4 separate regions of the Homo sapiens genome follow, and all the other regions are linked to region 4. Evidence: fine-mapped expression QTL. A gene starts in region 4. Each other region holds a variant in brackets. All regions are shown on one strand. Distances are from middle to middle. Region 1 overlaps PSMA6 (proteasome 20S subunit alpha 6). Region 2 overlaps PRORP (protein only RNase P catalytic subunit). Region 3 overlaps PRORP (protein only RNase P catalytic subunit). Region 4 holds the start of PRORP (protein only RNase P catalytic subunit).

Evidence for each region.
Region 1: its variant is fine-mapped to the expression of PRORP in whole blood (INTERVAL, PIP 0.97).
Region 2: its variant is fine-mapped to the expression of PRORP in monocytes after LPS (Fairfax 2014, PIP 0.94).
Region 3: its variant is fine-mapped to the expression of PRORP in whole blood (TOPMed, PIP above 0.99).

The regions. Positions count from the first base shown.
Region 1 is chr14:35,316,050-35,324,210 of GRCh38, reverse strand. PSMA6 (proteasome 20S subunit alpha 6) reads right to left here. Exons shown (of 7, transcript NM_002791.3): 7 at 6,718-6,962. The coding sequence ends at 6,905. PRORP-PSMA6 (PRORP-PSMA6 readthrough) reads right to left here. Exons shown (of 15, transcript NR_182666.1): 15 at 6,740-6,962. Among named protein-coding and RNA genes, the nearest start is that of PSMA6, 28 kb to the right of the region's middle. The variant AATT/T (reference allele first, on the strand shown) is at 3,940.
Region 2 is chr14:35,145,117-35,153,277 of GRCh38, reverse strand. The region is part of intron 4 of PRORP (protein only RNase P catalytic subunit); the gene reads right to left. The region is part of intron 4 of PRORP-PSMA6 (PRORP-PSMA6 readthrough); the gene reads right to left. Among named protein-coding and RNA genes, the nearest start is that of PRORP, 27 kb to the right of the region's middle. RefSeq lists an enhancer at 1-393. The variant T/AAT (reference allele first, on the strand shown) is at 4,367.
Region 3 is chr14:35,254,996-35,263,156 of GRCh38, reverse strand. The region is part of intron 5 of PRORP (protein only RNase P catalytic subunit); the gene reads right to left. All of the region lies in intron 5 of PRORP-PSMA6 (PRORP-PSMA6 readthrough), which reads right to left. It also overlaps the pseudogene RPL9P3. Among named protein-coding and RNA genes, the nearest start is that of PSMA6, 33 kb to the left of the region's middle. The variant G/A (reference allele first, on the strand shown) is at 4,886.
Region 4 is chr14:35,119,370-35,127,530 of GRCh38, reverse strand. It overlaps PRORP (protein only RNase P catalytic subunit), which reads right to left and starts at 4,979. Exons shown (of 8, transcript NM_014672.4): 1 at 4,896-4,979; 2 at 3,300-4,579; 3 at 749-796; 4 at 1-52. The coding sequence starts at 4,285. PPP2R3C (protein phosphatase 2 regulatory subunit B''gamma) reads left to right here and starts at 5,541. Exons shown (of 13, transcript NM_017917.4): 1 at 5,541-5,629. The coding sequence starts at 5,572. It overlaps PRORP-PSMA6 (PRORP-PSMA6 readthrough), which reads right to left and starts at 5,692. Exons shown (of 15, transcript NR_182666.1): 1 at 5,479-5,692; 2 at 3,300-4,579; 3 at 749-796; 4 at 1-52. RefSeq lists enhancers at 4,486-4,995, 4,079-4,998, 5,006-5,085, 5,626-5,755, 4,999-5,918 and 1 more.

The DNA of each region.
Region 1 (8,161 bases), 200 kb before region 4:
CGTTTTTGTTTGTTTGTTTTTACCCGCAACAGGGGAATAATAATAGTATAAGTCTATTATTCTTTATCCAAAAGGCATGGGGCCAGGTTCTTTTCTTTCTTTCTTTCTTTTTAAACAGAGTCTCACTCTGTGGCCCAGGCTGGAGTGCAGTGGTGCAATCTTGGCTCACTGCAACCTCTGCCTCCCAGGTTCAAGCGATTCTTGTGCCTCAGCCTCCCGAGTACCTGGGACTACAGGCGTGCGCCACCACGCCTAATTTTTTTTTGTATTTTTAATAGAGACGGGGTTTTGCTATGTTACCCAAGCTGGTCTCGAACTCCTGAGCTCAGGCAATCTGCCCACCTCGGCCTCCCCAGCGAGGATTATAAGCATGAGCCACCACGCCTGGCACAGATGCGTTCGGAATATAATGTATTTTGGATTTTAGAGTGGTAATATGATGTCTAAACCATATATTCCATAACTCTACCACTGGAGTCTGGGGCAGCACCCTATAATTAAGCACATTCATATTTCTGCAGAAATAAAGTGAGATATAAAAAGCCAGTTGAGTTTTAAGAACTTCCTGAATTTTGGAACTGTAGACAAGCAAATTATAAATGTTCAACTTAAACCAGTTTAAAGGATATTGTATCTAAAACAGGGCCTGTCCCAATAAAGACTAATACTTTATTAGGTCACTTTCTTATTTTTTTAGGTAAATAATCTAAATAGTAGATTATAATTCTATCTCCATTCCAATACCTCTTAATTTCATTTCTTATTGTATCAGCTGGAATTTCCAGAATGTAAAATAAATGGAGTTAGAAGCCATCTTGGAGCCAGGTATGGTGGCTGTAATCCCGCCTGTAATTCCAACACTGGGAAGCTGAGGCAGGAGGATGGCTTGAGCCCAGGAGTTGGACACCAGTCTGGGCAACATGGCGAGACCCTGCCTCTACAAAAATAAAACAGGCTTGGCGTGGTGGCTCACGCCTGTAATCCCAGAACTTTGGGAGGCCGAGGCAGGTGGATCACGAGGTTAGGAGTTGGAGACCAGCCTGACCAACATGGTGAAACCTCGTCTCTATTAAAAATACAAAAATTAGCTGGGCGTGGTGGCACGCGCCTGTAATCCCAGCTACTCAGGAGGCTGAGGCAAGAGAATCACTTGAACCTGGGAGCGGAGGTTGCAGCGAGCCGAGATCGTGCCCCTCCACTCCAACCTGGGTGACAGAAGGAGACTCCGTCTCAAAGAATAAAAATAAATAAAAATAAAAAAATTTAAACTAATTCACCATTATGATGTTAATTAGCTTAGCTGTCATTTTAGATTTTTGTTTGTTTTTTTGAGACAGGTGTCTCATTCTGTCCCCCAGACTGGAGTGCAGTGGCGTGACCACAGCTTACTATAGCCTCGACCTCTTGGGCTCAAGTGATCCTCTCACCTCAGCCTCCTGAGTAGCTAGACTACAGGTGTGTGCCCCTACGTGAAGATCCTTAATGTAATAATTTGGTTGTGTCACAAATCTGGATCTTGGATTTGGAGGCTAGTGAGGGAGCTGAGTACCTGGTTTGTTGCTGACTTGTAACCTAAATGGTACAGTAACTGCTTATGAAAAATGAGGTATCAAGAGAAGGAAAGCCTCATGTCTACCCAAATAGCTTCACGTTCATGAATGTCTGGACATATCCTCTGAGTGTCAGAATTATTATATTTCTCATATTTAAAAAATCATATCTGTATTTTTTTTTGAGACAGTCTAGCTCTCTTGCCTAGGCTGAAGTGCAGTGGCGGGATCTCGGCTCACTGCAACCTCTGCCTCCCGGGTTCAAACGATTCTCCTGCCTCAGCCCCCTAAGTAGCTGGGACTACAGGTGTGCGCCCCCATGCCCAGCTAATTTTTGTATTTTTTAGTAGAGATGGGGTTTTACCAAGTTGGCCAGGCTGGTCTCGAGCTTCTGACCTCAAGTGATCCACCCCCCTTGGCCTCCCAGTGCCAGGATTACAGGCATAAGCCACTGTGTTTGGCCTCATATCTGTATTCTTATATTTATTGATTGATTTTTAGATGGAGTCTCACTCTGTTGCCCAGGCTGGAGTACAGTGGTCCGATCTCAGCTCACTGCAACCTTGGCCTCCCGGGTTCAAGTGATTCTCCTGCCGCAGCCTCCTGAGTAGCTGGAATTACAGGTGCACGCCACCACATCTGGCTAATTTTTGTATTTTTGTAGATACTGGGTTTCGCCATGTTGGCCAGGCTGGTCTTGAACTCCTGACCTGAAGTGATCCGCCTGCCTGGGCCTCCCAAAGTGCTGGGATTACAGGCGTGAGCCACTGTGCCTGGTATGTGTATTTCTTACTAATCAAAATGTTCTTTGAGTAAAGATATTTAAAGATTTCAGGCATTTTTCTTGGCATTTTGTATAACCTTTCTGCATTAACCCTTTGTTATCCATTCCAGGTAGTTTGTTTAGAAAACAAAACAAGAAACAGATTGATTGAGACAGAGTTTCACTCTTGTTGCCCAGGCTGGGGTGCAATGGCATGATCTTGGCTCACTGCAACCTCCACCTCCCAGGTTCAAGCGATTCTCCTGCCTCAGCCTCCCGAGTAGCTGGGATTACAGGCATGTGCCACCATGCCCGGCTAATTTTTTTTTAGTATAGACAGGGTTTCGCCATGTTGGTCAGGCTGCTTTTGAACTCCCGATCTCAGGTGATCTGCCTGCCTCAGCCTCCCAAAGTGCTGGGATTACAGGCATGAGCCACTGCGCCCAGCCAGAATTAGAGTATTTAATGTCCACCCTTTTATTTTCATTATTAGAGAAAGGGTCTTGCTTTGCCACCCAGCCTGGAGTACAGTGTTGTGATCATAGTTTACTACAGCCTTGAATTCCTGGGCTCAAGTGACCCTCCCACTTAAGCCTCCCAAGTAGCTAGGACTCCAGGTGTGTGTGCACCACCACAATTGACCTAATTTTAAATTTTTCTGTAGAGACAAAATGTTGCCACACTGGTCTTGGGCTCCCAGTGTATTGGGGACTATAGGCATGAGCTACTGTACCCAGCCTAATGTTCACCTATTTAAAATGATCTATTTCTTCTCATTCTTTTAATTAAGCATAAACAACCAATATTTAAAACTATTCTATATTTAATCCTAATTCATCTAGATTTTGCCTTATAATGTAAAAACTTACTTTCTAACAAATTACAGAATTTTAGTTTTTCACCTCTGAAAAGGAGCCCCTAACAGTAAAACTGAATTAGTTGCTAGTCTCTCATCCACTGATTCTAGGAGGGTGACATCAGTCAAGGCTCTAAGGGTGTGGAAATTCAGCTTGTCTTTAGAGGATTAGCCCTTTTACATAGACCCCACTTTCGAAACGATGGCAGCACTTTCAAAGAGCCTAGTGGATTAGGATGGGTAATCCTAGAACAACCTGGAAGAACAAGGAAGAACCCTGCTTCCTTGTTAGGAAATTTTACTATTCCTGACAGCTCTGAAGAGGATGTGGTTGGTGAAGTTTCCTGCTTCTACTGGTCATATGTTTATGTGGCCTCCCCTTGTGTGGCCCTGGTGGCTGCAGAAACAGGGGCAACTCTAATTTCAGGGACTGGCATGAGACCAGCAGCCACACTCACCTGCATGAGGTCAACAGCACCAGACTTCCTCTGTGCAAAAGAGGACACAAAATGTATTACCCTTAGACTTTCCAAGATTTTTTAATCATCTCTAATTAGTGGTTCAGGTCACCAGTCTAGGGACTTTAAAAAATCCTGTACATTAAAAAAAACATAGGCTACAGCTGAGTGCGGTGGCTTACAGCTGTAATCCCAGCACTTTGGGAGGCCGAGCCAGGTGGATCACGAGGTCAGGAGTTCGAGACCAGCCTGGCCAACATGGTGAAACCCCGTCTCTACTAAAAATACAAAAATAATAATAATAATAATAAT[AATT/T]AGCCGGGCATGGTGCCAGGTGCCTGTAATCCCAGCTACTCAGGAGGCTGAGGCAGTAGAGTCACTTGATCCCGGGAGGTGGAAGTTGCAGTGAGCCAAGATCACGCCACTGCACTCTAGCCTGGACGATAGAGCAAGACTCTGTCTCAAAAAAAAAAAAAAGTTACCATGAATATACAGTTTGTTCTTTCTTCCTGAACATTGTGATGCTGGGTCTCTAAACTTTAATATAAACCAATTCCTTAATGTTATCTTCAAGTACTTATTATTAAGGAGGCACAGAAACTACACACATTCTATGACTTTTCTAGCCCTGTTTCCTGAAGGTAACTAAAATTTCTACCCTTGAAAATACTGGTTCTTAATGAGTATAAATGCTTTTCTCAAAACTATGGAAGATCATACTAATCCTTTTATTATAGTTAAAGCATTCAGTGGGACTTGGAGTCCACATTCAGTAGTATCTTGTTTGAATGAGAAATTGTAAAATAAAGGCCTTTCCTCACATGCCAACTTACGGTCAGGGTGGATTTCTTTTTGGAGACCGGGTCTTACTCTGTCACCCAAGCTTAAGTGCAGTGGCACAATCACAACTCACTGCAGCATCAGACTCCTGGGCTCAAGTGATCCTCTTGCCTTAGCCTCCTGAGTAGCTGGGACTACAGGTGCAGGCTACCATGCCCAGCTAATTAAAAATTTTTTGTAGAGACGAGGTCTTGCTATGTAGTCCAGGCTCATCACAAACTCCCGGCCTCAAGCAATCCTCTCACTTCAGCCTCCCAAAGTGCTGGGATTATAGGTGTGAGCCACAGCGCCCGGCCAGAGTGGGTTTCAAAACCAAAGTTGTAGTTTGTTATTTAATTATACCATATAGCTAGTTTACATTTCTGGCTTTTTTTTTTTTTTTTAAGATGGCATTTCTGTCACCCAGGCTGGAGTGCAGTGGCACAATCTCTGCTTACTGCAACCTCTATCCCCCGAGCTCAAGCAATTCTCCCTCCTCAGTGTCCTAAGTAGCTGGGACCACAGATGTGCATGCTAAGTTTTTATATTTTTGGTAGAGACAGGGTTTCACCTTGTTGCCCAGGCTGGTCTTGAACTCCTGAGCTCAAGTGATCTGCCCGGCTAAGCCTCCCGAAGTGTTGGGGTTACAGGTGTGAGCCAGCACGCCTGGTGCTGGCTATGAAATGTCTTAAGCCAAGTAAACTTGTACCAGTGTCAACAAAATGACTAAAGCTACAATGTGAAGATGGTGAATATTTGTCTGCATATACCAAAGGCTTAATACTTAAAATTGGAGGCAAACCACAATGAGACATCACCTCACTAGTTAGAATAACTATTATCAAAAAGACAAAACATAAGAAGTGTTGAGGATGCAGAGAAAAGGGAACCCTTACAATTAAGGGAAATGTACATGAGTACAGCCATTATGGAAAACAGTATGAACGTTCCTAAAAAAATTAAACAGAATTACTCTATGACCCAACAACTGCACTCCTTGGTATGTATTCAAAGGAAGTGAAATCCGTATGTTGAAGAGGTATCTGCAATCCCATGTTTATTGCAGGACTATACACAATAGCCAAGATATAACTGACTTAAGTGTTCAAAGTGAATGAATGGATAAAGAAAATGTGATATATATACACAAAGGAACACTATTCAGCTATTAAAAAGAATGAAATCCTGTTATTTATAACATGAATGAACCTAGAGGACAATACATTAAGTGAAAATAAGCCAGATACAGAAAGACAAATGCCACATTTTCACTTACATGCCAAGTCTAAAAACGTTGATCTATAAGTAGTGAATAGTACATAGAACAGTGGTTACCAGGGACTGGAGGTGGTAGTGGGAGGGATGGGGAGAAGGTGGTGAACAGCTAAAAAGTTACAATTAGACAGGAGGGGCCCAGTGCAGTGACTTACACCTGTAATCCCAGCACTTTGGGAGCCTGAGATAGGACTGTTCGAGGCCAGGAGTTTAAGACTAGCCTGGGTGACATAGGGAGACCCCTATGTCAATATTTTAAAAGATAAAAAATTAGCCAGGCCTGGTGATGCATGTCTGTAGTCTTAGCTACTTGGGAGGCTAAGGTGGGAGGACTGCTTAACCCCAGGTATTTAAGGTTGCAGTGAGCTATGAGCACGCCTGCCACTGCACTCCAGCCTGGGTGAGATCAAGTACCTGTCTCAAAAAAGAGAAAAAAGGAGTAAGATTTGGTATCCTATTGCACAGCAGAGTGACTACAGTCAACAGTAAGGTACTGTGGACCCAGGCACTGTGGCTCATGCCTGTAACCCCAGCATGTTGGGAGACTGAGGCAGAAGGATCGCTTAATGCTAGCCAGGAGTCTGAGACCAGCCCACGCAACATAGTAAGACCCCAACTCTACAAAAAAATAATAAAATTAGCTGGGTACAATGGTGTACACCTGTAGTACCAGCTACTAAGGAGGCTGAGGTGAGAGGATTACTTAACAAGGGAGTTCAAGGCTGCAGTGAGCCATAATCATGGCACTGCACTCTAGCTTGGGCAATAGAGCAAGATCTTGTTTTAAAAAACAAAAAACTAATAAGGTATTGTGTACCTCAAAATAGCTAGAGGAGAGGATTTTAAATGTTCTCACCACAAAAACACCGTGTTTCAGGTGATGGATATGCTAATCACCCTAATTTGATCATTATAATGTATACATGTATCGAAACATCACATTGCACCCCATAAATATGTACATTAGGTGTCAAAAATAAATTTTAAAATAGGAGGTGAAAACAACAGGATGCAATTATTTTCCAAAAGCCTTGTTTTTATTTATATAGAGTCCTAACCACTTCGGTGGTAGGAGGAGTGGGAGAGGCTCCTTTTTCAATCCAGGGACCTCCATGATGTTGGTTTGTTGTTACCAAACACACAGGTAAGTGGCATCACGGATCTGGTAAACTAACGACAATGTTTAGTCTCTCTCTGCTAGAGCAACAAGGTGAGCATCAATCTCTGCTTCTGTAAGAATCCTAGAAGGCAAAAGGGGGAAAAAAACAACGATTTAAAAAAAATTTTTTCAAACACACGTAAAAGTGGGATAGTATAATAAACTCCCATATACCTATCAACCTACTTTAACAATTATCAATTTATAAACCAATCTTTAAAAAATCTATACACACACTTATCTTCCCTCAGATTATTTTGAAGGAATTCCCAGATATTATACCACCTTCACCTATACACAAAAATGTTTACTTTGACATCAGATTTAGAATTGTATCTTGAAAATAAAATTCTTTAGTTGCAGCTAAGATAGAAAATATTTCAATTGAATAACATAAATAAAGCTAAACTATAAAGTATTCTATTTAGCTTCTATGTCAAAATGCATTTATTTTTTATTTTTTTTGAGACAGAGTCTTGCTCTGTCACCCAGGCTGGAGTGCAGTGGCGTGATCTCGGCTCACTGCAAGCTCTGCCTCCCAGGTTCAAACGATTCTTCTGCCTCAGCCTCCTGAGTAGCTGGGACTACAGGCATGTGCCACTATGCCCAGCTAATTTTTCTATTTTTAGTAGAGATGGGGTTTCACCATATTGGACAGGCTGGTCTGGAACTCCTGACCTCGTGACCCGCCTGCCTCAGCCTCCCAAAGTGCTGGGATTACAGGCGTGAGCCACCTTGCCCAGCCGTCAAAATACATTTATATGTAGTATAACTGAAATTTATGTCAGCTCAAAGATAAAAATTCATGAAGAAATTTTAAGCATATTAAAGTGTTCAGATTCAGAAGTTCATGAAAATAAAGTTATAATTCTATGAATAGTCTACCAGCCAGAGAGTGCTCCATGTTGAACATATATTTCCTTTCTCTTTTTTTTTTTTTTTTTTGAGATGGAGTCTGACCCTGTCGCCCAGGCTGGAGTGCAGTGGCACAATCTTGGCTCACTGCAACCTCCGCCTCCCAGGCTCAAGCAATTCTCCTGCCTCAGCCTCCCAAGCAGCTGGGATTACAGGCGTCCACCACCACATCTGGCTAATTTTTGTATTTTTAGTAGAGATGGGGTTTCACCATGTTGGCCAGGCTGGTCTCAAACTCCTGACCTCAAGTGATCTGTCCACTTTGGCCTCCCAAAGTGCTGGGATTACAGGTGTGAGCCACCATGTGTGGCCCTGAACATGTATTTTCTAAATGATGTTTGCCTCGAAAGGAAGCAATTGTTTGGC
Region 2 (8,161 bases), 26 kb before region 4:
CCTACAATTGCAGGCGCGCACCGCCACGCCTGACTGGTTTTTGTATTTTTTTGGTGGAGACGGGGTTTCGCTGTGTTGGCCGGGCTGGTCTCCAACTCCTAACCGCGAGTGATCCGCCAGCCTCGGCCTCCCGAGGTGCCGGGATTGAGACGGAGTCTCGCTCACTCAGTGCTCAATGTTGCCCAGGCTGGAGTGCAGTGGCGTGATCTCGGCTAGCTACAACCTCCACCTCCCAGCCGCCTGCCTTGGCCTCCCAAAGTGCCGAGATTACAGCCTCTGCCCGGCCGCCACCCCGTCTGGGAAGTGAGGAGCGTCTCTGCCTGGCCGCCCATCGTCTGGGATGCGAGGAGCCCCTCTGCCCGGCTGCCCAGTCTGGGAAGTGAGGAGCGCCTCTTCCCAGCCGCCATCCCGTCTAGGAAATGAGGATAGTCTCTGTCCGGCCGCCCACCGTCTGAGATGTGGGGAGCGCCTCTGCTCCGCCTCCCCGTCTGGGATGTGAGGAGCGCCTCTGCCCGGCCGCCACCCCGTCTGGGAGGTGAGGAGCGTCTCTGCCCGGCCGACCCGTCTGAGAAGTGAGGAGCCCCTCCGCCCGGCAGCCGCCCCGTCTGGGAAGTGAGGAGCGTCTCCGCCAGGCAGCCGCCCTGTCTGGGAGGGAGGCGGAGGTGGGGGGGTCAGCCCCCGCCCGGCCAGCCGCCCCGTCCGGGAGGGAGGTGGGGGGCGCCTCCACCCGGCCGCTGCCCCATCCGGGAGGTGGGAGGCACCTCTGCCTGGCCGCCCCTTCTGGGAAGTGAGGAGCCCCTCTGCCCGGCCACCATCCCGTCTGGGAGGTGTACCCAACAGCTCATTGAGAACGGGCCATGATGATGATGGCGGTTTTGTGGAATAGAAAAGGGGGAAAGGTGGGGAAAAGATAGAGAAATCAGATTGTTGCTGTGTCTGTGTAGAAAGAAGCAGACATGGGAGACTTCATTTTGTTCTGTACTAAGAAAAATTCTTCTGCCTTGGGATGCTGTTGATCTATGACCTTATCCCCAACCCTGTGCTCTCTGAAACATGTGCTGTGTCCACTCAGGGTTGAATGGATTAAGGGCGGTGCAAGATGTGCTTTGTTAAACAGATGCTTGAAGGCAGCATGCTCGTTGAGAGTCATCACCACTCCCTAATCTCAAGTACCCAGGGACACAGACACTGCGGAGGGCCGCAGGGTCCTCTGCCTAGGAAAACCGGAGACCTTTGTTCACTTGTTTATCTGCTGACCTTCCCTCCACTATTGTCCTATGACCCTGCCAAATCCCCCTCTGCGAGAAACACCCAAGAATGATCAATAAAAAAAAAAAAAAAAAGATGGATTAACAAAAAAAAAAGAAGAAAAAAAATTAGAGATAACTGATACAAAGATCCTAGCACAAAGATCTTAGCCTGACACTAAGAATTCAGTAAATGGTAACTATTATTCATTTATTCAACAAATTGAGCATCTTTATGTAAAGCACTATTCTGAGTTATGAGGATACAACAGTGTTCTAAACAGGCATTTAAAAATCCCTACCCTTGTGGTGCTTTCACTCTATACAGAGAAAAGATATATAGTAAAAGCTCTGTGTGTGTGTGTGTGTGTGTGTGTGTGTGTGTGTGTGTATGTGTGTGTGTAGCATGTCAGATAAGTGCTATGGAGAAAAATAAAGCAGAGATGGAAAATAGGGAGTGCTGGCAGATTAGAATGGGGATATGAAGGAAAGAGGGGAATCAAGGATGATTCTGACCTTTTTGACCTGAATAGCTAGAAGGAAAAAGTTGTATTTACTGAGATAGGGAAGACTATACATGTGTATAAAGATCGGGAGTTTGGTTCAGTGGTGATCAGAGGCCTTATTCTCAACATCTCAGCTGCTGCTCTTTCACACTGGTAGTTTTCTCTTCCTTCAGAAGTAAGCTGTCTGTCTTCAGCACCAGTATTACTGTTTCTAATCTAGTATCTTATTTACATTATTCTATTCTCTAAGAAGACCAAATGAAAAAGCAATAAAATCGATACATTTAAGCAATAGCTATAGAAAAACTAAATCAAAAATCCTAGGCAGAATCTTTTAAGAAAAATAACACTAAAAGTGTATCACTCTGGGACGTACCTCACTTCCAAATACTGTTTCTAAAAATTCACTTAGTAGATGATTATAAAGAACTCACAACACTTTTCCCATAAATAAAAATTAATTTAAAAATGGCTTGGTTTCCAAGCCAAATGATGCAATGGGTTATAGTATAACAGTAATAATGCCAACCTGAATCTGAGAGAGAAAAGATCACTCGCTGTAAGAAAGATAAGACTCTCTTGCCCTTAGCACAAGAAAAGTCAAGTATCTCCTTTGCACACTCCCACCTTGTTTCAACCTCCTAAAGGTGACTTTATCCCTCTGTCTCTAGCACACTACTCCACACAAAACTTTCCATTTGAGCACCCCCCTCAGATCAGCCCCTCAAAACGTTCTCTATGAAAAATCACCAACCCAACTCTAAAACAGCAGCAGCCAAACACCCATAGCCACACATAATTTTCATTTCCTTGTAAAGCCAAACTCAGCTAGGCTTTAGGAGGAAAGTACACTGCTTCAAGCTAAATCTCATAAAAAAGCCTGGATCCCAGCTGGTAGAATTTCAGTCAAGTGTTACATAAAAGAAAAAGAATGAAGAAATAAGGAAAACATTTGACATTGGGAAGGCCACTGCTAGGAGTGACCTGCTTGTCCTTTTAACTTTTTAACCTTCCTAAAATTCTGAATTCATTGATTTTTCTAGAAGCTTTACATTTTTGGCCAGAATTCTTGCACCGACATACCTGAATGGTAATTGTTTTAGGGCACCAGAAACCGTGCTGCTGTAAGACAGTAAACTTAATCAATAAATGTTGTGTGACTTCTGATTGCTCCACCAACAGCCATTTCCCCATCTTTCTCCCTCTGTTCAGGCCTCCCTATTACCTGAGACACAACAATACTGAAATTAGGCCAATTAATAATTCTACGATGGCCTCTAGGTGTTCAAGTGAAAGGAAGAGTCTCCGGTCTTACACTTTAAATCAAAAGCTTGAAATCACTGAGCTTAGTGAGGAAGGCATGTCAAAAGCTAAGACAGGGCTGGGCATGGTGGCTCACGCCTGTAATCCCAACATTTTGGGAGGCCGAGGCAGGCGGATCACTTGAGGCCAGAAGTTCCAGACCAGCCTGGGAAACATGGCGACACCCCATCTCTACTAAAAATTAGCCGGTGTGGTGACACATGCCTGTAATCCCCAGCTACTCGGGAGGCTGAGGCATGAGGATTGCTCAACTGAACCTGGGAGGCAGAGGTTGCAGTGAACTGAGATTATGCCGCTGCACTCCAGCCTGGGTGATAGAGTGAGACTCTGTCTCCCCGCCTTAAAAAACAAAACAAAACAAAACAAAAAAGCTAAGATAGGCCAAAAGCTAGGTACCAAACTTTGCAAATGCAAAGTTCTCGAAAGAAATCAGAAGTGCTACTTCAGTGAACAAATAAATGATAAGAAAGCAAAATAGCCTTATTGCTGATATGAAGAAAGTTTTGGTGGTCTGGATGAAACATCAAACCAGCCACAACATTCTCTTAAGCCAAAGCAAGACCTGAATGCTTCAATTCCACAAAGGCTGACAGAGGTGATGAAGCCGTAGAAGAAAAGTTGGAGGCCAGCAGAATTTGGCTCAAGAGGTTTAAGAAAATAAGCAATCCCCATAACATAAAAATGCAAGGTGCCAGTCATGGTTGCTCACACCTGTAATCACAGTACTTTGGGAGGCTGAAGCAAGAGGATCACTTGAGGTCAGGCGTTCGAGACCAGTCTGGGCAACATAGCAAGATCCTATCTCTACAAAAAATTTAAAAATGATCCAGGTATGGTGGTATGCCTGTAGTCCTAGCTACTTGGGAGGCCTAGATGGGAGGATTACTTGAGCACAGGAGTTCGAGGCCCCAGTGGACTATGATCATAGCACCACACTCCAGCCTGGATGACAGAATGAGACACTGTATTAAAAAAAAAAATTAGGCCGGGCGCGGTGGCTCACGCTTGTAATCCCAGCACTTTGGGAGGCCGAGGCGGGCGGATCACGAGGTCAGGAGATCGAGACCATCCTGGCTAACACGGTGAAACCCCATCTCTACTAAAAATACAAAAAAATTAGCCGGGCGTGGTGGCGGGCGCCTGTTGTCCCAGCTACTCGGGAGGCTGAGGCAGGAGAATGGCGTGAACCTGGGAGGCGGAGCTTGCAGTGAGCCGAGATTGCGCCACTGCACTCCCACCTGGGCCACAGAGCGAGACTCCGTCTCAAAAAAAAAAAAAAAAAAAAAAAAA[T/AAT]TAAAAAGTGCAACATGTAGGCTGCTGGGAGGTTATGGGCACAGACTGGTGGAACCAACACAAAAAACAAAAAAAGTGCAAGGTGAAGCAGCAAGTACTCATGTAGAAGCTGCAGCAAGCTATCCAGAAGATCTAAGATCACTGATGAAGGTGGCTACACTAAGCAACAGATTTTCCGTGGAGACAAAACAGCCCCTTCTATTGGAAGAAGATGCCATCTAGAATTTTCATAGCTAGAGAGAAGTCAATGCTTGACTTCAAAACTTCAAGGGACAGGCTGACTCTCTTGTTATGGGCTAATACAGCTGGTGACTTTATTGAAGTCAATGCCCGTTTACCATTCCAAAAATCTTAGAGTCCTTAACAATTATGCTGAATCTCCTCTGCCTATGCTCTATCAATGGAACAAAGCCTGGCTAACAGCACATCTGTCTACAGCATGGTTTACTGAATATTTCAAGCCCACTGTGGAGACCTACTGCTCCAAAAAAAAGACTCTTCAAAATATTATTGCTCAGTGACAATGCACTTAGTCACCCAAGAGCTCTTATGGAGATGTATAAGGAGATGAAAGTTGTTTTCATGTCTACCAACACAACATCCATTCTAAAGCCCATGGATAAAAGAGTAAATTCGACTTTCTAGTCTTATTATTTGAAAAACATGTTTTGTAAGGCTATAGCTGTCATAGACAGTGATTGCTCTGAAGGATTTGGGCAAAGTCAACGGAAAACTTTCTGGAAAGGATTCACCGATCTACATGCCACTAAGAACATTTGTGATTCATGGAAAGAGGTTGAAATATCAACAGTAACAGGTTTGGAAGAAGTTGACACCAACCCTCATGGATGACTCGGAGGGATTCAAAATTTCAGTGGAAGAAGGAACTGCAGATATGGTGGAAATAGCAAGAGAACTAGAATTAGAAGTGGAGCCTGAAGATGTGACTGAATTGCTTCAATCACAAAATAAAACTTGGATTAGGAATTTCTTCTTATGGATTAGCAAAGAAAGTGGTTTCTTGAAATAAAACTCACTCCTAGTAGACACGTTGTAAATATTGTTAAAATGATAACAAAGAATTTAGAATATTACGTAAACTTAGTTGACAAGGCAGCAGCAGGATTTCAGAGGATTGACTCCAATTTTGAAAAAAGTTCTAATGTGGTAAAATGCTTTCAAAAAGCACTGCATGCTGCAGAAAAATATTTTGTGATAAGAAGAGTCAATTTATGTGGCAAACTTCATTATTGTCTTATTTTAAGAAATTGCCACACAGTGGCTCATGCCTGTAATCCCAGCATGTTGGGAGGCTGAGGTGGGTGGATCGTTTGAGCCCAGGAGTTCAAGACCAGCCTGGGCAATGTGGCAAAACCCCAGCTCGACAAAAAATTAGAAAAAATTAGCTAGACATGGTCATGTGAGCTTGTAGTTGTAGCTACTCAGGAGGCTGAGGTGGGAGGATCATGTGAGCCTGAGAAGTGGAGGCTACAGTAAGCCATGATCTTGCCAGTGCACTCCAGCCTGGGTGACAGAGTGAGACCCTGTCTCAAAAAAATAAAGAAATTGTCATAGCTATCCCAGCCTTCAACAAACACCACCACTTTGATCAGTCAGCAGCCACCAACATCAAGGCAAGACTTGCCATCAGCAAAAAGATTACAACTTGCTGAAGGCTCAGATGACCACCAGCATATTTTTTAGCAATAAGGTATTTTTAAATTAAGGTATCTATATATATTTTTTTAGACATAATGCTATTGCACACTTAATAGTCTACAGCATAGTGGAAAGATAAGTTTTGTTGTTGTTTAGAGGCAGAGTCTCACTCTGTCTCCCAGGCTGGAGTTCAGTGGCACAATCACAACTCATTGTAACCTTGAACTCCTGGGCTTGAGTGATCCTACAAACTCAGCCTTCCAAAGTAGCTAGGACTACAGGTACACACCACCAAGCCGAGCTAACTAAAAAAAAAATTTTTTTGTAGAGATGGGATCTCACTATGTTCCCCGGGCTGGTGTCGAACTCCTGGCCTCAAGCAATGTTCCTGCCTGGGCCCCAAAGCACTGGGATTACAAGTGTGAGCCACCATATCCAGCCATGGAAAGATAACTTTTATACGACCTGGGTAACCAAAAAATTTGTGTGACTCACTTTATTGCAATATTTACGATAAAGCTTAGAACCAAACTTGCAATGTCTTCAAGGTATGCCTGTACTTTAAAACACATGGTTTAAAACTATATTTTGCAGATAATTAAATTTCTTTCTCAGATTTTTAAAAAATCACTAAACCCACAAAGTTTTCCATTTACCACACAACATTTATTTAAATCTGGGGAAAAAAACCCACAGTTCATTTTAGAGATGACAAGATCTTCAAACCCAGAGAAAAGAGAAGGTTCTGGAGACTGTGATAAAGAGCTCAGTTCACATCTTTCAGTTTGTAACCAAATAAAGAAAAAAAAATCCCTAAAGACCTAAATTAGATAAGTTCTTATACTGACATTTCATTAGGGTCATATGTCCTGTCTTAAATTTGTATTTAGAGAAACACCTCTTTGTCAATAAACTGAAGAGATACTATCAAGCAGGACAAATGATTTGCTTTAAACTTAACCCTAAAAACTCAATTAAATGTACCACGGGCAATTTGCCTGCCTTTTTTTCTTTTCCAGAAAGGAGAATCCTAAATCATTAAAGCTTTATTTAAAAACTTCTAAATCACAGAATTATGGGGACTGTGATTATGATTAAAGTTTCATTAAAAGTTCAAAATGGGGCTGAGTGCGGCGGCTCACACCTGTAATCCCAGCACTTTGGGAGGCCGAGGCGGGCGGATCACCTGAGGTCAGGAGTTTGAGACCAGCCTGGCCAACATGGTGAAACCCCTTCTTTACTAAAAATATAAAAAAATTAGCCGGGTGTGGTGGCAGGCGCCTGTAATCCCAGCTACTTGGGAGGCTGAGGCAGGAGAATCGCTTGAACCCGGGAGGCGGAGGTTGCAGTGAGCCGAGACGGTGCCATTGCACTCTAGCCTGGGCAACAAGAACAAAACTCTGTCTCAAAAAATAAAAAAATAAATAAATAAATAAATAAATAAATAATCAAATAAAATTAAAGTTCAAAATGAATGGATCATGGTGGGCTGTTTCCTTCCTTCCTTCCTTCCTTCCTTCTTTCTTTCTTTTTTGAGATGGAGTCTCGCTCTGTCGCCAGGCTGGAGTGCAGTGGCGCGATCTCAGCTCACTGCAACCTCCGCCTCCCAGGTCCAAGCAATTCTCCTGTCTCAGCCTCCTCAGTAGCTGGGACTACAGACGCATGCCACCATGCCCAGCTAATTTTTGTATTTTTAGTACAGACGGGGTTTCACCATGTTAGCCAGGATAGTCTTGATCTCTTGACCTTATGATCTGCCTGCCTCGGCCTCCCAAAGTGCTGAGATTACAGGCGTGAGCCACTGCGCCCGGCCTTTTATCTTTCTTTATAGCTATTTTGACCAAAAAAAAAATTTTCCCCTTTTCACAGGTGTTGATGAAATTTTTTATAATTAATAAATATTATAATCAGGATAAAACCCACTTCCATTTTGAAAAGTAAAAGAAAATGATTAAGAAGTCTCAATAAGAACTAAAAAAGCACCAGGTGCAGTAGCTCACGCCTGTAATCCCAGCCCTTTGGGAGGCCAAGGTTGGAGGATTACTTGAGCCCAGGAGTTCACGACAAGCCCAGGCAACAAAGTGAGATCCCCCATCTCTACAAAAAATTAAAAAATTAGCTGGTCGTGGTGGTGTG
Region 3 (8,161 bases), 140 kb before region 4:
ATGTATTTTTATTTTATTTTTCTTTCCAAATCAATAGGTCTTTTGCATCATTTAAACATCACAAATAGGTCTTAGGAATCATCCGGCATCTTGTTTCAGAAGCTGGACAACTCTTAGATCTTATTCATCAGCCGGCTGAACAGTTCCTTTTTCAGAGACATAGATACCATCCAAAAATTTCCTGATATCCTTGTTTTTAACTGTCGTGGCTTGCTGAATCAAAGCCTCTAAATTGGAAACAAGCTCAATGTCATTACCTTCAAGGATTAATTCATCTTTCTGGGCTTGAGATACTGAACAAGCAACACCTGTTCTCATCCGAACCCTGAGGATGTATTTTTCACCCAAGAAATTTCAGATTTCAACAAGAGACCCATTCTCCTGGATAACGACATTGATGGGGAAGTGAGCATACACAGACCTCATCCTGTAATGGAAGCCCAGTGTAACACCCTTGATCATGTTCTGTACATGACTACAAATAGTCTGAACGGCAGCCAGTTCCTTTCAGTTTCCCCACCATTTATCAACCTGGAGCCTCTTTTCTTTCTTTCCAAGAAGACTGAATCTACACTGATGTGATTGAAATCCCTCTGCAGGGTTCCTCTGGGGCCTTTCACAGTAACTGTGTGTCCCTTCAGAGTAATGTCACCATTTTCTGGAATGTTGACAGTCTGGTTGCTGAGAATGGTCTTCGTTCTCTCAGTAGACATGGCAAAGAAAGTTATTCTATGTATTTTTAAACATAATCTTATAAGCTATTTTAAAAGTTGGGCTAGTAATAAAAGGCAAACATCTACACTAGTAAACTTTGATTCATGGATTCAAATAGCTCAAAAGACATAGGCTGGGTCTGGTGGCTCAGGCCTGTAATCCCAGCACTTTGGGATGCTGAGGCAGGAGGACTGCTTGAGGCCAGGAGTTCGGGACCAGCCTGGGCAACACAGCAAGACCCCATCTCTAAATAATAATAATAATAATAAAATTATAAAAAAAATTCAAACAAAAACTATTTCTGATACTGATTGCTTAAGTTTTCAGGCAACTGGGAAAACATGGCTTAAGATAATACAGTTGTGTCTTCATAGCTATATCCTGGTTCAGATAAATGGCCTTGAGTTTACTAATAGTACATTAAAGACTGGGGCCCAAAGAAGAGCAGAAAAGCCTATCTTGAACTATTCTGGGGCACCATCTTGTGGCTGAGAAGTCTCTACTAGAAGCAGCTCTCTGAAAACAATGAAAACAAAGGAGAATAATTGAAAGACACAGGGAAAAAGATGAGTGTGCAGCATAAAAGCCCTGGCCTGAAACTCCATGACAGTCCAGCCATGAACCCACTTCCTCTCGGGTAAATTCGAAGGCTGGATCCAGTGGTCTGAATCAGTGTCATAGGTATACTTGGAATAGTTTGTTTGTTTTTTTTTTGAGACAGAGTCTCGCTCTGTTACCCAGGCTGGAGTGCAATGGCACAATCTTGGCTCACTGCAACCTCCGCCTCCTGGGTTCAAGTGATTCTCCTGCCTCAATCTCCTGAGTAGCTGTGATTACAGGCACCCGCCACAACGCCCAGCTAATTTTTGTATTTTCAGTAGAGACAGGGTTTCGCCATGTTGGTCGGGCTGGTCTCAAACTCCTGACCTCGTGATCTGCCCGCCTTGGCCTCCCAAAGTGCTGGGATTACAGGCGTGAGCCACCGCGCCTGGCTACTTGGAATAATTTTTTTAAAAAGACAGAAAATTCAACTTAAGATTCTATGTTAGATCAAAAGTAAAACCAGGAGGGAAAATGGAGTAGATGTACTTCTCCCTATGTCTCCCACTAAGTGCAACTAAAAACCTTGGACATTATATATAAAATAAACATAAGAAGACTTGGAAAGGTAGAGGGAAAAATGGCAAACTGGCTGGGGACCTCAGTACACAAGGACTGACATGGTGGTGAGTTCCCTGGGTTTTCTTTTTGCCACATAGATCTCAGAATTGGAGCTGAAGAAGCTGTCAACCTAGAAATGCCAATGTGTGCAGACAAAAAAACCCAACAAAGGCTTGTTCTCTCTAGCCAAAGACCAGGAAAGAGGCAGTCTTACTCAGAAAACTTGGTAAAATAACATCAGTAGATTATGATGCTGTGTATGTGTGTGAGTCTGTGTATGTATAAAACAAATAGAGTTGGCTGGGTGTGGTAGTTCATACCTGTAATCCTAGCACTTTGGGAGGTCAAGTTGGATGGATCGCTTTGTTGCAGAAATCAGGAGGACTAGACAGACTTCGGGGTAAAGCAGGAGGATCTTTATTGAGTGCACTCAGACCTAGCAGACTTAACATCTAAAAAACTGGGCTAAGAACAAAGACAGCACTTGACTGTTAAATACCCTTCAAAAAGGGGGTGGGCTAGCCTGAAACAAACTTATGGTGGTGCGAAAGCAAGAATACAGAGGCAGAACAAAGACAGTTAATCAAACTGTGATAGGTGCATAACTCAGGATTACACATGACTGTTGCTATGCAATCTAGATGGCTGTTATCTAGGTTTGCCTTAGTGCCTAGCACGGCTTATTCTGTGACATTCACTATGGCACCTAGGTGGCTATAGCTTAGGCCTGCTCAGATGTCTCATGACTTTCACTGTACTGTTTAGGTAAAACAGAATACTTGAAGTTACTAGTTACAGAGAACAGGAATCTATAAACTTATACTATAAGACAAAGGAAAATTTGTTTTTCTCTTCCTTATGTTGAGGGAGTACTGGGAGAGTCTTCAGGGCACATTAGATAGTATTATCAAGACTTTTCTTGGGTCTGGCCTGTGCCTGTTGCTGCCTCTGGGTCAAGTCAGCCTAATACAGGAAAGTTTATTTCTCTTTTTTAATTTTATTTTTTCTTTCTTTCTTTAATTTCTGCCTCAGCTTGAGTTCAGGAGTTTGAGACCAGCCTGGGAAACAAAGCAAGATTTTGTCTCTACTAAAAATAAAAAACATTAGTTGGGGATGGTGGTGTGTGCCTGTGGTCCCAGCTACTCTGGAGGCTGAAGTGGGAGGATCCCTTGGGCCCAGTAGATCAATGCTGCAGTGAGCTATGATAGTGCCACTGCACTCCAGCCTGCGCAACAGAGTGAAACCCTATCTGGAAAAGCTCCCACCAAAAAAAAAAAAAAAAAAAAAACCCGAAAAACCTCCAAAACACCTGCAGTGATCACTAAAAATGCTATACAAAAAGATACACTCAAAAACACTATAGATTTTATTTTATTTTATTTATTTTTTGAGACAGAATCTCGCTGTCCGCCAGGCTGGAGTGCAGTAGTCTGATCTCGGCTCACTGCAACTTCCGCCTCCCGGGTTCAAGCAATTTTCCTGCCTCAGCCTCCTGAGTAGCTTGGATTACAGGTGCACGGCACCATGCCTGGCTAATTTTTTTTTGTATTTTTAGTAAAGCCCGATTTTCACCATGTTGGCCAGGCTGGTTTTGAATTCCTGACCTCAAATGATCCACCCACCTCAGCCTCCCAAAGTGCTGGAATTACAGGTGTGAACCACTGCACCCAGAAAAAAACACTATAGATTTTAAAAAGCCATTATAAAGAAATAAAAACGGAATTCTAAAAAAGTTCAATAGTCCATAGGAAGGGAGGAAAAGTAAAACAGAGACAAAACACAGAAAAGAAAAAATAAATGGCAAATATAAGCCCTAACATATCAATAACAGTATGAGGTATAAAAAGTCTACATATACCAATTAAAAGACAGAGGCTGGCAGAATGGATTAAAAAACATGACCCAACTATATGCTATCTAAAAAAAAACTCACTTCAAATATAATCAAATAGACTGGTGGAAAGTAGAGGGATGGAAAAAGTTATATAGCATGCAAACAATGAAAGGAAAGCTGGAGTGGCTATATTAATATTAAATAAAATAGACTTCAGAGCAGAGAAAATTACCAGAGACACAAAAGACGTTATATAATGGTAACAGGGTCAATCTAAGAAAACATAGCAATCTTAAATGTGTGTACCAAACAACAGAGCTGCAAAATATGTGAAAGCAAAAGCTGACAGAACCAGGAGGAGAAATAGCCAAATCTACAACTACAGTTGGAAACCTCAACACTCCTCTCTCAACAATTGAGATAACTGGACAGAAAATCAGCAAGCATATAGAAGAACTCAACACCATCGTCCAGGTTCATGAATTGGAAGGCTATAGACAGTAAAGGCAAAGGAAGTAGAATAGCTAAAACAATTTTGAAAAGAAAGAATGAAGCAGAAAAATCAGTTAACCTCATTTTAGTCCTTCTTATACAGCTATGGTAATCAAAACTGTGTGATAATACCGGAAGGATACATTCTGGAGTCTGGACTACATAGCACAACAAAATAAACAATACGCGGTTCATTCTAGAGCACATCTAAAATTCCAAACTGATCCCAGAACTAATACCTCCTGAGTACCCAATACCTCAGGCTTAACCTAAAATACGGTATCTCTGCCCCGCCCCCACACCCTGCCTGCCCCATCCCACACAACATCACGGGTCCTCCTTAGTGATACTTTCCCTTACTGATAAGGAGTACACTTGGCCCAGACTTCTGGAATGGGAAGATGGAGGCTTACTCAAGTCAGACTTATCATCTTAGAATTCTTTTTTTTCTCTCTTCTGATTTGGGGTTTCTGTTTCCAATATTTCCTACTATTTCACCTTTCCTTTTCACAAAATTATTTTTCCTTGAAATACGTCTCCTTTTGCCACTGCATTTTCTTTATTCTGATTACCATCGGGGTTAAATTTTAATTTTCTGTCTACTGTTTTTTCTCAAGATGATTAAGGATAATTCTCTAAAAATCAGAAGAATAAAAACATATTTTGCCAGGTGCGGTGGCTCAT[G/A]CCTGTAATCCCAGTGCTTTGAGAGGCTGAGGTGGGAGGATCTCTTGAACTCAGGAGTTCGAGACCAGCCTGGGCAACATGGTGAGACCCTGTCTCAAACAAATGAACAAACAAACATATTTCAGATTAATATTTGGTTTGAATTTTTCTGGTTTGGCTTCTGCCCTAATTTGGCTTATCTCCAGTAGGAGGAGATAAGAGATTTTTTTTTTTTTTACTCATATGTGACACATCAACTTTTGGCATAAAACTGATGAAAAGTAGTTCCTGAGCTTAGGGTAAAAATATAGTTGGCAGGGCTACATGGGTTAGAAATAACTGTGTAGGGATGCTCCGGAAATAGAAAAGCTGCCTGGGAGGTAAGAGAGGCCAATGAGAGCAAGAGTTTTTCTCAGTAATCCTAAACAGCAAATGTTAACTTCCTTTCCCTGTGCTTATACCTTTTTACCTCCTCCTCTGCAGTCTATGGCACTTCCTGAGGTTTTATGGATTGTAGCTGTTCAGAAACTCTAAAGCCTTTGGGATCTGATGTCTTCAGAAATTAGAAATTCTTCGTCTGTTCCTCAGCAAGATAACTATCATCAATATACCTCATTTATAAGAACATTCATTATGGGATACCTCCAGGAAAGAACTTAAAAACTGTTTTGGAAGCAACCCAAATGTCAATTTCTGGAAGATGAATAGATCGATAAAATGTGGTATATACATATAATAGATTATTATTCAGCCTTAAACAGGAATGAAATTCTAATACATGCTACAACATGGATGAACTTGAAAACTAAGTGAAAAAAGCCAGACACTAAAGGACAAATACTGAATGATTGCACTTACATAAGTTACCTAAAGTAGTCAAATTCATAAAGACAGCATAGAATGGTGGTTGTCAGGGCAGCAGGGAGAGGAGAATGAGGAGCTATTGTTTAACGGATACAGAGTTTCAGTTTGGGAAGATGAGAAAAGTCTGGAGATGAATGGTGGCAACAGTTGCACGACAACATGAAGTACTTAATGCCACTGAACTGTATACTGAAAAATGGTTAAAATGGTAAATTTTATGTTAATATATTTTACAACAATAAAAGATTTTATCAGGCCAGACACAGTGGCTCATGCCTGTAATGCCAGCACTTTGGGAGGCTGAGGCGGGCAAATCACTTGAGGTCAGGAGTTTGAGACCAGCCTGGTTAACATGGTAGAACCCAGTCCCTACTAAAAATACAAAAAACTTAGCTGGGTATGGTGGCAAGCGCCTGTAGTCCCAGCTACTTGGGAGGCCGAGGCAGGAGAATCGCTTGAACCTAGGAGGAGGAGGTTGCAGTGAGCTGAGATGGTGCCACTATACTCTAGCCTGGGCAACAGAGCGAGACTCGGTCTCAAAAAAGAAAAAAAAAAAAAAGGATTTTATCATAAAAATTTTAAATATAAACAAAAGCAGGCAGAATAGCATAATGAACTGCCATGTACCCATCGCTCAGCTGCAATAATTATCAGCTCACGGCCAATCCAATTTCATCTATATACCAATTCACTTCCTTCTCTCGGATTATTTTGAAACAAATCCCAGACATATCATTTCACCTGTAAATATGTTGGAATGCATTTCTAAATATAAGAATGCTTTAAAAGATAAGCACAGGGCCAGGCGCAGTGGCTCACGCCTGTAGTCCCAGCACTTTGGGAGGCCAAGGTGGGCGGATCACGAGGTCAGGAGTTCGAGACCAGACTGACCAACATGGTGAAGCCCCATCTCTACTAAAAATACAAAAATTAGTTGGGCGTGGTGGCAGGCGCCTGTAATCGCAGATGCTCAGGAGGCTGAGGCAGGAGAATCGCTTAAGCCCAGGAGGCGGAGGCTGCAGTGAGCTGAGATTGCACCACTGAACTCCAGCCTGGGCGACAGAGCAAGACTCTGTCTTAAAAAAAAAAAAAAAAAAAAAAAGATACGCACAATTTCTTTTTTCTTTTTTTTTTTTTGAGATTTTGAGACAGAGTCTCGCTCTGTCACCCAGGCTGGAGTACGGTGGTGCAATCTCAGCTCACTGCAGCCTCCGCCTCCTGGGCTTAAGCGATTCTCCTGCCTCAGCCTCCCGAGCATCTGGGATTACAGGTGCCTGCCACCACGCCCAACTAATTTTTGTATTTTTAGTAGAGATGGGGTTTCACCATGTTGGCCAGGCTGGTCTCAAACTCCTGACCTCGTGATCCGCCCTCCTTGGCCTCCCAAAGTGCTGGGATTACAGGCGTGAACCACTGCGCCCAGCCTGATAAAATCTTTTCTTGTTGTAAAATATATTTAATATAAAATTTATGTAACATAAATGTAACATAAATGACTCATATTTCTGAGTCACAATTGTTTTTTGAATAAGGATCTAAAAAATTCCCATACATTGAAATTGCCTGGTATCTCTCTTAAGACTCTGTATAAGCTCTTTATCTATTTATCTTTTCTCCCTTATAGTCTAAGGCATATGATTGTTCATAGAGAATTTCCTCCATTTAGATTTTACCGATTGCATCCCTATGGTATCATGTAACATAGTCTCCAGTCTTCTATGCTTCTTGCAAACTGGTAGTTGAATCTAGAGGCTGTGTTTGGTGGTACATGCATGTAGTCCCAGCTACCTGGGATGCTGAGGTAGGAGGATTGCTTGAGCCCAGCAGTTCAAGTGTAGCCTGGGCAACACAGCAAAACCCTATCTCTTGATAAAATAAAATATAATGGTCCTGATGAATTGAAAAGGCCAGTTCATTTATCAAAGATTAAGAAGAACCTCCTCTGTAAGTCACTAGGCATGTGGTACTTGGAATACAGATATAAAAAAACAGTTATTCCAGCCGGGTGTGGTGGCTCATGCCTGTAATCCCAGCACTTTGGGAGGCCAAGGCGGGTGGATCATTTGAGGTCAGGAGTTCGAGACCAGCCTGACCAACATGGTGAAACCCCGTCTCTACTAAAAATACAAAAAAATTAGCCAGGCGTGGTGGCACATGCTTGTAGTCCCAGCTACTTGGGAGGCTGAGGCAGGAGAATTGCTCGAACCCAGGAGACAGAGGTTGCAGTGAGCCGAGATCACGCCACTGCACTCCAGCCTGGGAGACAAAGTGAGACTCCATCTCAAAAAAACAAAAAAACAACCAAACACAGTTATCTCTAACCTCAAGGTCTTTGCAGTCAAATTAATATAATATAATGTATGCACTAAGATGGAACACAAAGGATGGGCACTTCAATCAGACTGTGGGTGAGGAGGGTGGTCAGGGAAGTCA
Region 4 (8,161 bases):
TGGACTCAGCTGAATAGACTCTATGGTTTTTCCACAGCCCGAACACTGGCCACTGTAATTATAATTGTTAAATAATAATATTTAAATATGTCGAATAATGTTCTGGGGAAAAAAATTTGTGAAATGAACAATGAGGAAATTAAAAGGTAATAAAAAAGAACATTAAAACCTTTGTGATAATCACATACATCTAATTTTTTGTAAACCTGATAATATCACAAATTAGTGTGCCAGAAAACCCAAAAAAGTAGATTGGCCGTTTGGATGACTTTTTTTTTTTTGAGACAGGGTCTTGTATTTTTAGTGGAGACTTGGTTTCAACATGTTGGCCAGGATGGTCTCGAATCTCCTGACCTCGTGATCTGCCTGCCTCGGCCTCCCAAAGTGCTGGGATTACAGGCGTGAGCCACCGCGCCCAGCTCAGATGACATTTTTAAAGTAATTCCTATCCTCTGGAATATCATATTGGTGAATTAAATAAATAAATAAATCCTAAAACACAACTGGGTCTGGAACCTCTAGGGAAAAAACATCTCTAAGACTTCATATAGGTTCACAGTACTCACAGGAAAAACATTTTGGGCACTGCTAAGTCTCTGTATGCAAAGTATGTTTTTTTCCTCAGATACTCTAATTACAAACTTGTAATTATCCTACCCTTAAGGTGTTCTTAAATATTTTTCAATTAATAGCAACAAAACCTACTAAACCAAAATCAAACAAGTTAAAAATAAACATTGGTCTTCACCTTTTTCGGACTGTGGTGAATTGTCCTTTCCATTGTTTTCCAGGAACACTATGAAAAGATTGCAAAACCAAATCATGAGAAGGTTAGATTCCTACTGAAATGAAAGATATTCATGGTATTTGGAAACTCTTATAAGCAAGAAGTCCGAAAAGTTCAAGATACTTCTGTAGAATGGTTTAATTTAAAAAGTGGCTGCTATCCTGGATGGGGTTAAGAAGCTGCTGGTACTCTGCTCTGGATCTCCTTCTTCCCTGTGGTTCTCCTCCCAACAAATAACTCTCATCTTCAAGTCTACCAAAAGCGGCTGACCTTAGTAGCATAACCTCTAAACCAAACTCAACTCTTACCTTCTCCATAAAGCTGCCAGAAATTGCTCCTGCCGAGAGTAATTTACCTCTTACACACCACTGTTATTTCACTGTGTGGTACTGTATTCCCAATTAAATTGAGAATGTCATAATAGATTTTATAAAACACTCGCAATGCCTAGCCTATTTGGAAGCATTCAAAAACTATGTATTGATGTATTTGTTCAATCAATGTATCCTTTCCTCCTTCCCCTTCCACATATTACCATCAGTTCTTATGATTCTACTGCCTTCTCTCCTTCCTCAGTTCTTAATTCTCATCATCTCTCACCTAAACCTAAAATTGTATTCACGCAGATCTCCCTGTTTTCAATCTTAATCCCTCTCCTATCTACTCTTCTCACTTGGCAACTGCCTTTGTAAAACTCCATTCCAGCATTATTTTTTTCTTTTGAGACAAGGTCTTGCTCTGTCGCCCAGGTTGGAGTGCATGGCGCCATCACAGCTCCCTGCAGCCTTGATTGACTCCCTAGATTCAAGTGATCCTCTTGCTTCAGCCTCCCAAGTAGCTAGGACTACCGGCACACACCGCCATGCCAAGCTAATTTTTGTATTATTTGTAGAGACAGGGTTTCACCATGCCCAGGCTGGTCTCCAACTCCTGGCCTCAAGCTATCCTCCCACCTCAGTCTCTAAAAGTGCTCAGATTACAGGCGTGAGCCACAGCACCCAGCCAAATCCAGCATTCTTGATAACAGAATAAAATCCAAACTCCTTGGTATTCAAAGATTTTCACAAATGGGCTCCTCCTCCCTTGATCTTCAGTAAGTTTAAGATAATTAAGCATAATTACTGCTTCAAAGCTCCGTAAACATGATATAGGGGAAAAAAAGGCAAGAGAAAAACAGAGGGAAGGAACAAATTTTTAGGAAGCAAATTAATGAAGAAATAATGACTAAGCATGGTGGCTCACACCTGATCGCTTGAGGCCAAGAGTTTGAGTCCAGCCTGGTCAACACAGCAAGACCCCACCTCTTAAAAAAAGAATATTAATTTTAAAAAATAAGTAAAAATTTTCAAAAATTTTAAAAAAGACTAAAGCAATAAACAGGTATGTACCCAGTAACATGAATAAAGCAAAAGCAAACCAAAGGAGAGAGCTTTAGAGAGACAGCAGCCAAATGATAGAAAGGTCCAAAACAAACTGGAAGGGTTAAGATTTTCCATTGTAATGCTTACGTATAAGGCTTGATCAATATCCCCCTGTCCACTCTAATCATCCAAGTTGATGAACTATAGATAGTAGACAGAATAGGCCGGACGCGGTGGTTCACGCCTGTAATCCCAGCACTTTGGGAGGCCGAGGCAGGCGGATCACCTGAGGTAGTTCGAGAGCAGCCTGACCAACATAGAGAAACCCCGTCTCTACTAAAAAGAAAATAGAAAATTAGCAGGGCATGGTGGCGCATGCCTGTAATCCCAGCTACTCGGGAGTGTGAGGCAGGAGAAAACCCGGGAGGCAAAGGTTACAATGAGCCGAGATCATGCCATTGCACTCTAGCCTGGCAACAAGAGCAAAACTCCGTCTCAAAAAAAAAAAAAAGGGAGAGAGTAGACAGAATAAATATAAGCATATTATCTCAGTCGCTAGATTTCAGAGGAACTTCTGAAAATACTAATATGGCCAGAGACAGTTCTAGTCAAATGCTATATTCTTTTCTTGCTATGAACAGTGGCCATAAGTAGTATTAAGTACTCACATCATACTAGATGCCTAAGAAAACAAAATTAATGATCCTTCCAAAAGGAAAAAAATGTAAAAATTAAAACTGCTATATAATTTCAGTTTTATGTGATGGGTAAAGATTAGCACAAATTATGTATGTTGTTACTTTTTTTAAAGAGAGAAAATTTTGTCGTAAAGAGAAAATAAATCTTACTAAGAGATGGAAAAAAGTATAATCAGAAGAGTGATTCTCAGCAACTAACAACAAAAAAGAATGGCTACTTTGAGGTTTAAAGTTATTAAATTAAAAATAATTAGCCAGGTATGGTGGCACATGCCTGTGGTTTTAGCTACTGAGGAGACTGAAGCGAGAGGATCACTTGAGGCCAGGAGTTTGAGGTTACAGTGAGCTATGAACACACCACTGCACTCCAGTCTGGGCAACAGAGCAAGACCCTGTCTCAAAAAAAAAAAAAATTAAAGAATAAAAACATACATATAAAAAAACCAAAATTACCTCTCAAACCATGTTTTTATACTGTGTGCAAATGACTCCCCTGGATACAGCTGATTATTTCTTAGATATGAAAGAATATCTAGTAGTTTATTTGAATAGTTATCATCCTTTATGTCTTTTCCAAAATCAAAGAAAGCTTTTAAAGTTTCCAACATAGGAACAATATCATGACCTAGCAATTCCTGATATAAATTCCAAGCTGTGTTTACATCTTGATGAAGGAGAGCTCCCTGGATACAGTCATTATAGTTCTTTTTTGAAGGAGTTATAACTTTTTTGATGTCCTCTAACAGCAACAATGCTTCTCTCCATCTGTCTGAATGGATCAATCCCCGGATGAGAAGACTGTAACCTCTAGGTTCTAAAGTCTTATATCTGGCTTTCATAATTTCAAAGACATCAATAACTTCAGATGTCTGCATATGAAAGACACAGAGATACAAATACTTGACCAGTAAATCGTAACTTACAATACCATTATTTTTGGCTGCTACCCATGCCAGCAGAGATTTAGCCACATCTATAGAGCTATGACAGCCAGCCATCTGTGAAATGATCCAACTTTCGAAACTGGTCTTTCCGGTGTTTTCTTTTAAATCTTCCTTAAGTTTATCCCACTCCTCTGAATTCAAAGGTTGTGTTGGGAGTTGAATAGTGTTCCTCACAGGTGCCAAGGCATGATCTTCAGTTTGAGAATTCATCTGTGATCTCTCCTTAGCTGCTCCAGCTAAAAAAAAATGAGGAACAGAATAAACTTGCTTATTACTGCCCTCATCTTTCCTGAGATATCTGGCCTTGGCAATCAGATTCGTTGCTTTGGTATTCTGTGGAGACATTGTTTTAAGAGAAAACAACCTCTGCTGGTTCCTGATGCCACAGCGGTCTGCCAGAAACAGCGAGACATAAGAGTGCCCTGGGCCTAGCCCAAGGTATGGGCTCTTCCAAAGCTTCGGAAAGCTTCGAATACCAAACAAATAGAAAGTCATTATGCAGTGAGATCAGCACCAGATAGTGAGAGAGATGTTGAAAAAACCCCTCTTCTATGGCAAAATTAAAGAGATTGGGGGTCGGCGGTGCAGAGTCGAAGTGGAACTTTTTAAAAGGTTTGTGTTTCTTCCTTACAGACAAATCAAGGTTCTGCTTTTGGGGCTACTTAAAAGCAAGAAGGCAGGTGAGTTTTCTCTATTAAACAACAATCCGGGGATGTCCAACGTCGCAAGCCGCAAACCAGGGGACAGAGCAGGAATCCTCTGGTGCCTCTTACATTCCAGTTCATGAACCTGAGGAAAAAGCACAAGACGGAACGCCCAGTTTTACTCACGTGGATCACAGCTGTCCTGAAAAGGAACAGATTCCCACGGGAAGCTTGCTGGAAAGGGGGTGTAAAGCCAAAACCGTATCCAGGGACCCCCAACTCCAGCCTACCACCAACAGCGGCGAAAGCCGAAGTCTAGGGGCCCTCACCCTGCATAGCTCTCTACAGACCGCAAAACTCCTCCGGTGGGGGGACGAGGAGGGAGGAGGTGGCGAGTCAGCTGCGCCAACGACTCAGGAAAGGAAGAGAGGTACAGGAAGGGCGCTGCCTAGACTGCGTACCGAACGCTGACAAATGAAGTTCACTTCATTCAACAACTCAAAGCGGCACTCAGACTTAACGCGGCCATAAACGCGGCGGAAACTACAGTGCCCACGATGCACCGCGCCAGCCCCGACCGACGGACGAGACTGACCCGGACTTAGGCGTTCCGCCTGGCCCGGCGGCGAGGAAAAAAGGCAGTTTTGAAGCATTTAGTGGCAAAAGGGGTAGGAGACGGCTGCTGAAGTGTCTACTACATTCAGGGGACCTGGAAGGCTTCCAGATATCCGCAATGAACAATGAAAAGAAATTGTGAAAGAAGGCGCTTCCCTCAAGCCGGAACTAATGAACTCCTGGGTCACGTGGTGCGCACGCGCCAAAGGCACACGATAAAGGAAAACGCGGGCTTATCGTGGCCTTTAAAATCCGGCTTGGTGAGCTTGGGTCGCCTCTGAAGGAGAACCATTTTCCATCTCTTTCATAGTTTTTTCCCCCAGTCAGCGTGGTAGCGGTATTCTCCGCGGCAGTGACAGTAATTGTTTTTGCCTCTTTAGCCAAGACTTCCGCCCTCGATCAAGATGGTGGTTGGACGGCCTTCCTAACCTTTACGGGGCCTGGCGGTGCTGACGCCTGAGCTGGTAGGGGTGGAGCAGGTAGGAAACAGCAAATGCAGAAGCTGCTGCGCGGAAGTCGGCCATGGACTGGAAAGAAGTTCTTCGTCGGCGCCTAGCGACGCCCAACACCTGTCCAAACAGTGAGTTTTGGGAGGGGCAGCCCGTTGGGATGGCCCGGCCCTAAACTCCTAGAGGTAGGGGGGAGGTGGGGAGGAGGAGCAAGGGGGAGCCGCCTTTTCCGCTTCTGTGAAACCTCCCGACAAAGGAGGCGGAGTGGAATGTGGTTTAAGGATCCCGATAGGTTTGACCCAAACTTTCCTGGGGCAGAATCTAGAGGAACGAAAAACTTAGCTTTAGTCACTGACTTCCATGGTCTTAATCTAAACTTGTGAAGAATAACTTGGAACCCCGGCTCCAACAACGCCTGAACCCCACCAGGACCTATAATTGTCCTCCTGCCTTTTTACTGTCACGCTTTTTGCTTCCCTCGTAATCCATTTTATATTTCATAATCCATTTTTCCTTTTATTTTTCTCCTTCACATTGCTTATTAACTAACCTCGTTAAATCTACCTTTCCTATTCCACACCCGCACTAAGGGCTGTTGAAAGTGGCTGGAGAAAAACAGAACCTTGGTGAGTTGTCTCACTTTTTTTTTTGAGACGGAGTCTCTTGCTCTGTCGCCCAGGCTGGCTGGAGTGCAGTGGCAGCATCTCCGCTCACTGCAACCTCTGCCTCCCGGGTTCAAGCGGTTCTTCTGCCTCAGCCTCTGGAGTAGCTGGAACTATAAGCGCGCGCAACCACGGCCGGTTAATTTTTGTATTTCTAGTAGAGACGGGGTTTCGCCATATTGGCCAGGCTGGTCTCAAACTCCTGACCTTGTGATTCGCCCACCTCGGCCTCCCAAAGTGCTGGAATTACAGACGTGAGTCACCGCGCCCCGCCGAGTTATCTCACTTTTAATACAAGTCCACTAATCTAAAGAAGGTGTTTTGGTCATGTCTACCGTGTTTTCCTGGACGTTCATTCTCCTACATTCAATTTTCATCTCCCAAACTGCCAATCTGTGTTTTCCTAAATACACTTTTTTTTTTCCGATACAGGATCTCCCTGTGTTGCCCAGGCTGGAGTGCAGCGGCGCAGTGAAGTATTGCTGCAACCTCGATTTCCTGGGCTCAAGGGATCTTCCCACCCCAGCCTCTTGAGCAGCTAGAAGTACAGGCACACGCCACCACACCCGGCTAATTTTTTATTTTTAGTGGAGATGAGGTCTTGCTATGTTGCCTGGGCTGGTCTCGAATTCCTGGCCTCAGGCAGTCTTCCTACCTCCACCTCCCAAAGTGTTGCTATTACAGACGTGAGCCGCCGCACCCAGGCAACACTCTTTTACACTATTCTTCTCATCTCCTACACCTGCAGTCTGTCCTACCCGCTTCTTACTTTAAGCTGATGAACTTGTATTTTAATATATATCTCATTAAGAAAGGAGAAGCAGTCGGCCGGGCGCGGTCGCTCAGTCCTGTAATCCCAGCACTTTGGGAGGCCGAGGCGGGCGGATCACGAGGTCAGCAGATCGAGACCATCCTGGCTAACACGGTGAAACCCCGTCTCTACTAAAAATACAAAAAAATTACCCGGTAGTGGTGGCGGGCGCCTATAGTCCCAGCTACTCCAGAGGTTGAGGCAGGAGAATACCTTCAACCCGAGAGGCGGAGCTTGCAGTGAGCCCGAGATTGTGCCACTGCACTCCGGCCTGGGCGACCGAGCGACACTCAGTCTCAAAAAAAAAGGAGAAGCAGTCAGAGGAGAACATCACCTGTCCCCCTTAACATTTCTTTCAGCCCCACAACCCCACAGTTAGTTGCCCATACACTCTGGCTTCACTGTTAAAATGATGAACTGATGCCGGGCGCGGTGGCTCAAGCCTGTAATCCCAGCACTTTGGGAGGCCGAGGCGGGCGGATCACGAGGTCAGGAGACTGAGACCGCAGTGAAACCCCGTCTCTACTAAAAATACAAAAAATTAGACGGGTGCGGTGGCGGGCGCCTGTAGTCCCAGCTACTCAGGAGGCTGAGGCAGGAGAATGGCGTGAACCCGGGAGGCGGAGGTTGTAGTGAGCCGGAGATTGTGCCACTGCACTCCAGCCTGGGCGACAGAGCGAGACTCCGTCTCAAAAAAAAAAAAAAAAAAAGATGAACTGTCCATGCTCCTATTTAAGAGTCCCTCCAGTCCACCACTAGATTGCATTCTTTTCCCTGTATTCACTGACTTCCTTCCAGCCTCCTCCTTTCTTTCCTACATCATCAGATTTTCCTTCTGCTGGATCATTTACACCAGCACAAACGTGCTGTTAATATCACCCATCTTTTTAAAAGGTGGGTGGTCGGGGGTAGTGGTGTTGGGAGGCTCGGTGGCTCATTCATGTAACCCCAGCACTTTGGGAGGCCGAGATGGGAAGATCGCTTGAGGCCAGGAGTTTGAGACCAGCCTGGGCAACATAGTGAAACACCGTTTCTACAAAAATAGAAAGTAAAAAATTAGCCCGGGTGGTTGTGCACCACTGTAGTCCTAGCTACTCGAGAGGCTGAAGCAGGGAGGGTTGTTTCAGTCTAGGAGTTTGGGGCTGCAGTGAGCTATGATCATGACACTATACTGCAGCCTGGGTGACAAG